Linked DNA regions of Homo sapiens. The protein of the gene in region 1 purifies or fractionates together with the protein of each later gene. This does not show direct contact. Each region holds a gene or a part of one and is shown in the gene's direction. Other genes may lie near its edges.

Evidence for each region.
Region 2: the proteins of PCDHGB1 (region 1) and SPECC1 purify together in Homo sapiens (co-immunoprecipitation; 3 studies listed by BioGRID and IntAct, with this or other methods). This does not show direct contact.

The regions. Positions count from the first base shown.
Region 1 is NC_000005.10:141,493,099-141,496,698, forward strand, and holds part of PCDHGB1 (protocadherin gamma-B1 isoform 1 precursor), read left to right. Parts: intron 1-1,708; coding exon 1,709-1,767; intron 1,768-3,600. Other genes in the region: PCDHGA1 (protocadherin gamma-A1 isoform 1 precursor), read left to right, coding at 1,709-1,767; PCDHGA2 (protocadherin gamma-A2 isoform 1 precursor), read left to right, coding at 1,709-1,767; PCDHGA3 (protocadherin gamma-A3 isoform 1 precursor), read left to right, coding at 1,709-1,767; PCDHGA4 (protocadherin gamma-A4 isoform 1 precursor), read left to right, coding at 1,709-1,767; PCDHGB2 (protocadherin gamma-B2 isoform 1 precursor), read left to right, coding at 1,709-1,767; PCDHGA5 (protocadherin gamma-A5 isoform 1 precursor), read left to right, coding at 1,709-1,767; PCDHGB3 (protocadherin gamma-B3 isoform 1 precursor), read left to right, coding at 1,709-1,767; PCDHGA6 (protocadherin gamma-A6 isoform 1 precursor), read left to right, coding at 1,709-1,767; PCDHGA7 (protocadherin gamma-A7 isoform 1 precursor), read left to right, coding at 1,709-1,767; PCDHGB4 (protocadherin gamma-B4 isoform 1 precursor), read left to right, coding at 1,709-1,767; and 11 more. UniProt on the Homo sapiens protein: Potential calcium-dependent cell-adhesion protein. May be involved in the establishment and maintenance of specific neuronal connections in the brain.
Region 2 is NC_000017.11:20,007,635-20,011,452, forward strand, and holds the start of SPECC1 (cytospin-B), read left to right. Parts: upstream 1-1,724; 5' UTR 1,725-1,790; intron 1,791-2,528; exon of another isoform or gene 2,529-2,583; intron 2,584-2,886; exon of another isoform or gene 2,887-3,018; intron 3,019-3,818.

The DNA.
Region 1 (3,600 bases):
ATCAATGCCTAACTCTGCTCCTAGGACTGTATTTTGAAACACCCCCAGGTGATTTTGATAGCTGATTGAGAGAAACTTACTATATAACTCCTTTGAGAACCTCATCTCATTTGCTCTTCCCACCATTGCTGTTGGCTAGGTACTAACATGCCTCTCTTATAACAGCTTCACAGAGGTCAAGTGACTTGCTCAAGTTCACAGAGCAAGTAAGAGAGATTCTAACCCCTGTCTAACTCCAGAATGTGTGCTTTTAATTTCTTGGCACTTGGAACTTTAAAAGCTTGAGGACAGGAGAGGGGAGTTGCCTCTGCTGGGATTTTGCTTCTGCTGGGATGGGGCAAGGGTGGGGTTCCTTCCCTTTTAGGACCTTACATGTGGGGAAAGTCTTCTGTGGCTCCTCATTTCTGAGCAGTCCCCGCAGCGCAAACTTGGCCAGTTATCCTTTTGGAGATTGAGTTCCCCCAGCTCCGTTTCCTCCTATCACAATCACTGCATTTCCATGTAGATTCTGCTGTGTCTAAGAATACAGTGGCTGAGGGCTGGCCATCCCTGTGCCCTTCTCCATGGCAGCCCCAGAATGGTGCTGGTGACTCCCGATACACCTGGAATGCTAGGTTTCTGGGTTCTGCTCATATCACTGCCACCTGTGAGCCTTGAGTGAGCCACTGGCAGTTCCGGAGCTTCCTTCTCCCTGGAGTAATCTGAGATACTCACACTCTCTGCTTCTGGGAGCAAGTATGAGTATTAATTACCAGCCCACCCCAGAACCAGTGAGGAGGTGGCTCTAGGAGTGCTCCATGAGAGTGTGTGATGGGATAACACACCCCCTGGAAAGACCAGAAGGGACTCAGGAATGAAGTGGCTGGCCAGAGCCCCACACCTTCAGCTAGGTGGGAGATGGCTACACATCAGCCCCTTGGGAGCCCTGGAGACTTAGTTGGCCCTGCTTGGAGGCTGTGGGAGCTGGATCCCTCCCCGCTGCATCCCTTCCATTTTTCTCCGTCTCAGACAGAGCAGCCTTGTTCTCTTCTCCTTAGTCACAGACCATTGTCTGGCACGGAGTTCTAGGGGTGAGAAGTGTCCCGGGACTTGGATGCCCCGCAAAGGCCCAATCTGGCATGACTCCTAAATTAATAATGTATTTAGCTGTGGGAAGAGATTCTTGCAAGCCAAGGGCCCAGAGAAGATGTCCCTGTGAATGTGTCACTGCACAACCTGGCACCAAAAGGGTTACCAAGAACAGCAGCCATCTTGCTGCAGAGGATGCTTTGTTCCCAGCTGAGGAGTTGAATAAATTCATTCTAGGGCTGGTAGAATTCTCATTGAAAAGCCTCCTTTGCCACTTTAGGGGGCTTTGTCTGCACCTCTTCCCCCAGTTCCACAGAAGATGCCTTCAGTCCTTGAATTTTGGCTCAGGAGTTCTGACTCTGGGGGCAGGGAGGAAGGGGCCATTTCTTTAGGAAAGGAGTCTCAGCTTGCTCACTGTGGTCAGATGAAATGTGATTTATCTCTTGGTTTCTGGTACCTCAGACCTCTGAGACCTGAGGTGTATTTTGTCTTTGGAGATGAGTCCACCCCTGCCCCCTCTTAGTCCGTTTTCTTCTCTGTGCCCACTCCCCTCCTTCTCTCCCGGCCCATCCCTAGGGGCTCGGGTGACATTCTAACTTCTCACGGGTACTCAGCCCCTTTCCCTCTGTTTTCTCCACAGCAAGCCCCGCCCAACACGGACTGGCGTTTCTCTCAGGCCCAGAGACCCGGCACCAGCGGGTAGGTGACTGATTCTCCAGCCCACCCTCTTCTCTGCGGCATTTTCTCAGGGATGACGTGGGAGGAGATGGGGGAGGGCCCAGCATTTGCTACAGATGGCTTCTCCCTCAGTTTGAGATCCCAGGGAGGTCTTGGTGTGCGGGGGGCTGGCACACAGACCCCGGAAGGAAGAGGCGACTGCCCTGACTGTTCAGGAAGCTCAATTCACATGCTTGCCCCTTCCCTCCTCGCCACGACCGGCACCTTTTCCTATCCCCTGAGGGCACTGTGGAACCAAAGGATGGTCTTAAGCTGGTCTCTGGGTGAAAGCGAGGCTTTCTATGCCCATGTACTGCCTAACCCCCTCCCCTGAGTTGAGCTGGGCTCCATTATGACCTGGGGCTCAGGCAGAAAAGCATTTGACCGGAGGAGGCGGTCCGCACTCAGCGCCTCCTCCAGAGCCTCCAGAGCCGAGGCTGACTGCAGCCTGGGGAGAGTGGAGGCAGCACAGCTGGAGGTGGAACTGAGGAAGGACTGGGCGGGGCATGGAGCAGGCCCCCTTCTCCGGCCCCTCCTCCCACTGTCCTCTGCCCCTACTTGTCCTGCTCTCTGTCTGTGGGGTCTCCGTGTCTCTGCCCCTTTTTCTTGAGTTTCCGTCTTTGCCACTTTCTCTTACCTCTCAGTCCTTCCCTCAGTCTCTATCTCGCTTTGCAATCTCTGCCTCTCCCTCTCTTCTCCATCTCTGTCTTAGCTTCCGTCTTGATTGCTGCACCTCAGCCTCAGTCCCTTTCATTTGTCTACTTGCATTGATCTGTGCCGCCCACTGTGCCTGCCATGGCATAAGTGCTCAATAAATGTGGAGTGAGTAACTACACGGGACCCTTAGTCTCTTTCTCCTTCTCTATCTCTGCCTCCCTGTCCTTGTCCTGGACCTCTTTTCTGTTTCTCCTTTCACCGTTTCCTAGCGCCTTGTGTTCTTCTATCCCCAGCCTCTATGTTTCTCTGTCTCTCACTATTTCTGCTTTCCTCTCTGTTCTTTGTCTCTCTTTGTCTCTGTCTCTGTATATCTTTCTTTGTCTCTGTCTCTGGTCTCTGTGCCTGTTGTCTTTTTCTGCCTCTTTCTCTGTTACTCTTTCTTTATCTCTCTTTTTCTTTTATCTTGTCTTTTTTCTCTGAGCCTCTGTCTCTGTCTCTCATTTTTTTGTGCTTGTGGGCAAGCCAGCACACACAACCCCCCACCCACCACCCACCAACACCCCGCTCTCTTCCTTCCCTGCCCCTCACACACTGAGCCTTTGATCGCAGCTCTCCACCAGACACCCTCCCATCCAAGCAGCCCCAGCTGCTCATTTCAATCTGGTATGAATTCCTGCTGAGACAGGAACCCCCTGCGGGCTGAAGGGGAGGGAAACTTCAGCAGAAAGACCTTCAGTTGGTCTGAGCAGAGTGGGATAGGCTCTGCGCCAGGCCTCCCAGTTAGAAGTCAGGAGCCTGGAGGAGTCTCAGAGCCCAGGGAGAGAAGCAGGAGCTTGGGCCACCTTACCCTACCTCCTCAATGGTTGAGTACTTGCTGTCCACATTTGCCAAGTTGCTACAGATGCTGAGCTTCCAAGAGTTATCTTTCCCCCATCCTGCAACCAACCAAACCCTTGTTGCCACAAGGACCCAGGAGCCCTTGGTGTATGGCAGAGATTCCAGCTTCTGGGCATGCACAGTCCTGTCACCCATTTTAGGAACGCAAAGCGCTTCTTAGAAGGCCCCTAAAAAGCAGCAGATCAAAAGGCTTGGGCTGCCCTTGCCCTTCCTTTGACCCCAGCTGTTGTCCTTCTCCCTGCTGGCCTTGCCAACCTTCTC
Region 2 (3,818 bases), on another chromosome or scaffold:
CTTTTCTAGCCTTAAAAGATTTACCCTCCCCAAAGAAAGCATCAGGCTGGGAGGAACATTTTTAACTGGGAAATGATCAAACCTCAAAGAATAGATAATTTTAATGCTCCTTAAATTGTTCAGAGTAAAAGGAAAAAGCAAACATGCCCATTTTTTTTTCTTTTTTTTTTTTTGTAGAGATGGGGGGGTCTCACTGTGTTTCCTAGACTGGTCTCGAACTTCTGGCCTCAAGCACTCCTCCTGCCTCGGTTCCAAATTTTTTATGATGTGAGCATAACATTGATTCTGAAACCAAACAACATTAGACATTCAAAAAGAAAATTATTGCCCATCTCATTTTTGCATATCAATGCAAAGCCTGTAAATAAAATATTAGCAAACAGAATCAAGCAGTATATTTAAAAAAAAAAGACAAGTTTATTGCAGGGATAAACTGGGTTTTTATTAGGAATTTATTATAACTAGGACTCATTACTTCAATATGAGGAAATCAGCTGTCACCCGGTTTGCTCGTCCTTACAGACATCTCCCTCCTCTTCCTCTCTTCCTTTCCAGTGAAAATGTCTTCAAGTTTCCTCTACCAAACCAAAACTTCACCCCACTTCTTTTATTCTTTCCTCCTCTCTTCTCAGAACAAAGGGGTTGTTGCTGACCAGCCCAGGGTTTCTTATTTGGGGCCGGATCATTCTTCCTTGTGGGGCAGTCCTGTCCTTCAGGTAGGATGTTGAGGAGCACCCTCGTGTCTACCCACTTAGGCAACAGTAGCAACTCCCGCATCATGACAACCAAAAATGTCTCCAGACCTCCCCAAATGTACGCGGGGCGGCGAGGAGGGGCAACACCGGCCCTGGTCGAGAACCGCTAGCCTAGGCTCGCCCCTCTACCTGGGCGCCACAACTTGCCAGGGTTGGTTATTCTCCCTGGATCCTTTCCTTCCTCCTCATTTGAGCTTCACGCCCTCAAGTATGACCAAAGGTTCTGTCATTCCACTCCTGCAGTTTTCATTAAGGTCTTAGGCCACTTCCATGTCAAGAAACACAGTGGCTCTTTCTAACCCCTGGCCATGAGGCACCCCTGGAGGAGGAGCCGTGAGGGTAGGGAAGATGCTGAGGGGGATGTTGACCTTGCCGACTTCCAGGCGCCTCCGCTGCATCCCGGAGGAGGCGTTGGGCGGTGAGGGTGCAGCGGGGGGGCGGGCCCCGCAGGATGAGGTGTCCGTGTGCGGCTAGCGCCACAGGCAAGACCGGGCTCCTTGCGGGGCGGAGGTGAGGCCGTGAGCATAGCTCTCAAACTGGAGGGCGCCTCAGAATCACTTGACGGGCTTGCGAGAATGTGGACTGCTGGGCCCCACCTTCATGGTTTTAGTGCAGGAAAAACCGAATAGGCTGGGTGGGACGGAGAATCTGCATTTTCTCAAGTTCCCAGATGAGGCTGAAGCTGCTGGTCCGGGCACCACCCTTAGAAAACCTCCAGTGTAGAGTGCGGAAATGGGGTCCACATCTGGCTTGGGACGCCCAAACATCGATTATGTGCGACCAGAGGATGAGCAGATAGGGAGATGAGACACTGAGAGCTGGGAGAGAGGGGGCCCCCGGCCGCCGGCTGAAGGAGGACGGCGCAGGCGGCGGTCCGGGTACTACATCTCCCAGCGAGCCCCGCGCGGCTCGCGCTCGCCCCCTGGCGGCGATGGCTGGAGGCGCCGGCGGAGCGCGGGTCCCTCTCCTGAGCATCAGTGAGCGCCCGGAGCCGTGGCCGCTGGGGGTTGCGGCGGCGCTGAGCCAGCGGGGCCGGTGAGTACTAGCCGCGCCGCCAGCCCGCCCGCCGGCCGGCTCTTTGCGCCTCAGCCGCGTGGTCTGAAGGGATGGGCGGGCGAGCGCGGGGGTCCGGCAGTCCGTCGTGGGGGCACGGGACTGCCTTTCTGGGAAGGCGTGCTGCGTCTTCGCCGCGGGGGCCCCGGTCCCCTCGTCGCGTGTCCTGTCCCCAGCCCAGGAGGGACGTCCTGGCCTGTCCTGCCCGGCCCGGAGCGGTGGGACCGGTGCCGCAGGTGGCAGCGGCAGGTGGCCGCCTCCTCCCCTCCGGGCCCGAGGGTTGTCGCAGGGACCCGGGACTGAGAGCCAGGTGGCTCCCGACAGCTGCGGCCCTGGAGGCGACCCCAGCCCTCGCCGCAGTGGGACAGGTGCGCGGGCACGCCCGGCCCCGGCTCCTGGGTCTCGGGAGCCTCCCGCACCCTCCCTGTTGTGCCTTGGGGGTGCTGCGTGGTGCAGAGGACCGAGAAGCCCTTCGCCCTCGGCGTCCGCCGCGCTCCCGCCCCTTCCTGGCCGGGGTGACAGGGGAAGGGCTAGGGCTGCGCATCCCGGGTCAGCTGGGGCGCCGCGGCGCAGTGCACCTGGAAGGCCCGGGGGCAGCGCGCGGTGCCCGTGGGTTTCCCGGTGGTGCGGACCTGCGGGCGTGCGGAAGTAACGACCTCCTTCCCCAGTGCCCATGCAAGGAAATTAGTGTTATGTGCTTGCTTTTTTTTTTTTTTTTTCCTAAGGAAGTTTGACTCTGAATATCTTATTTTGCTGGAGCTCCATTTGCCAGCACGTAAGTTTATGTAATAAGCGGCATACAGTTCGGAAAAAAATTTTCCTGTGAAAGTGCTCTTCCTTGCCCTCTGCAGGAAGAATTACGCCGAGCTGGTTGGCAGGCTTATCCACCAGCAACTGTAGGAGCTGCAGGCAGCAGATAAAGTGTTTTTTGAGTAAGGGCACAAGTCAGCCCTTCAGGACAATTTTTGTTTTTGGAAGATTCTGTTATCCAGTTCCAAACACCGTGTTATTTCAGTGTTGAAGATGGGGGAGGAGGGAGGAGCACAGGCTTGTCAATCCTAATACCTCAACAGAAATTAGCTTTGCAGGATTAACTCTCCAAGCAAGCGAGTTGAATTTGGTAGCCCAAACTACAGCTGAAGCTGAGCCTCCATACTAAAGCCTGTCTCAGTTTTAATAGTTTTTCGCTTGATTCGTTTGCCTCTTCCAAGTAGGTGATCTTATTGTCTGTTAAACAACAGATGTCTCTCATGTTTTTACTTTTTTCCTTGTCTTCCATAGATTACTCTCGCTGCAGTGTTGACTATTGAGGTTAAATAGGAATCTTTGTCTTGGGCTTGGTTTTAGGGAGCATTCCCTCTGTATCTTCACCGAGTGTATTCTATCACATTAAGTACATTTCTGTTTATGCCTAATTACTAAGAGTTTAAAAAGTCAAGGGTGGGTGTTGGGTTTTTTGCCCAAATGCTTTTGTGTAGCATGCATTGATATGATCATGTAGATTTTCGTCTTAAAATTGTTAACATAAGTGGTGGTCACATTGCTAGATTTTCTTTCTCTAAAACCCTGGGCTAATTTAAAATGCACTTTTGGATTGTTCACATCAATAAGCTAGCATCTTATTTAGGGTTTTGGTATCTGAGTTTGGCATATAGTTTACCCCATTTTTATCTGTGTTCATAACAAGGATCAGGCTGTCCTCTCTGATTAAATTGGGAAACTTTCCATCATTTTCTATGCTCTGGAATAGAAGAATTATCTGTTCCCTCAAGTTTGGCAGAACTTGACTGCAGACTGCCTGGGCTGCTGCTGGTGTTGTTTAGGCAGTTAATATCAGTATTTAATTACCTTTTCATTTTTTTCATGATCATTTATTTTTCTCAGTTTTTCTGTTTCTTCAAAGTAAATTTAATATTTTCTGTTTTCCTAGAAAATCATTAACATTATTGAAATTTAATATATGCTAGCATAATGTTGTATATAGTATTCTGGTGTAAGAAAACAGACTCT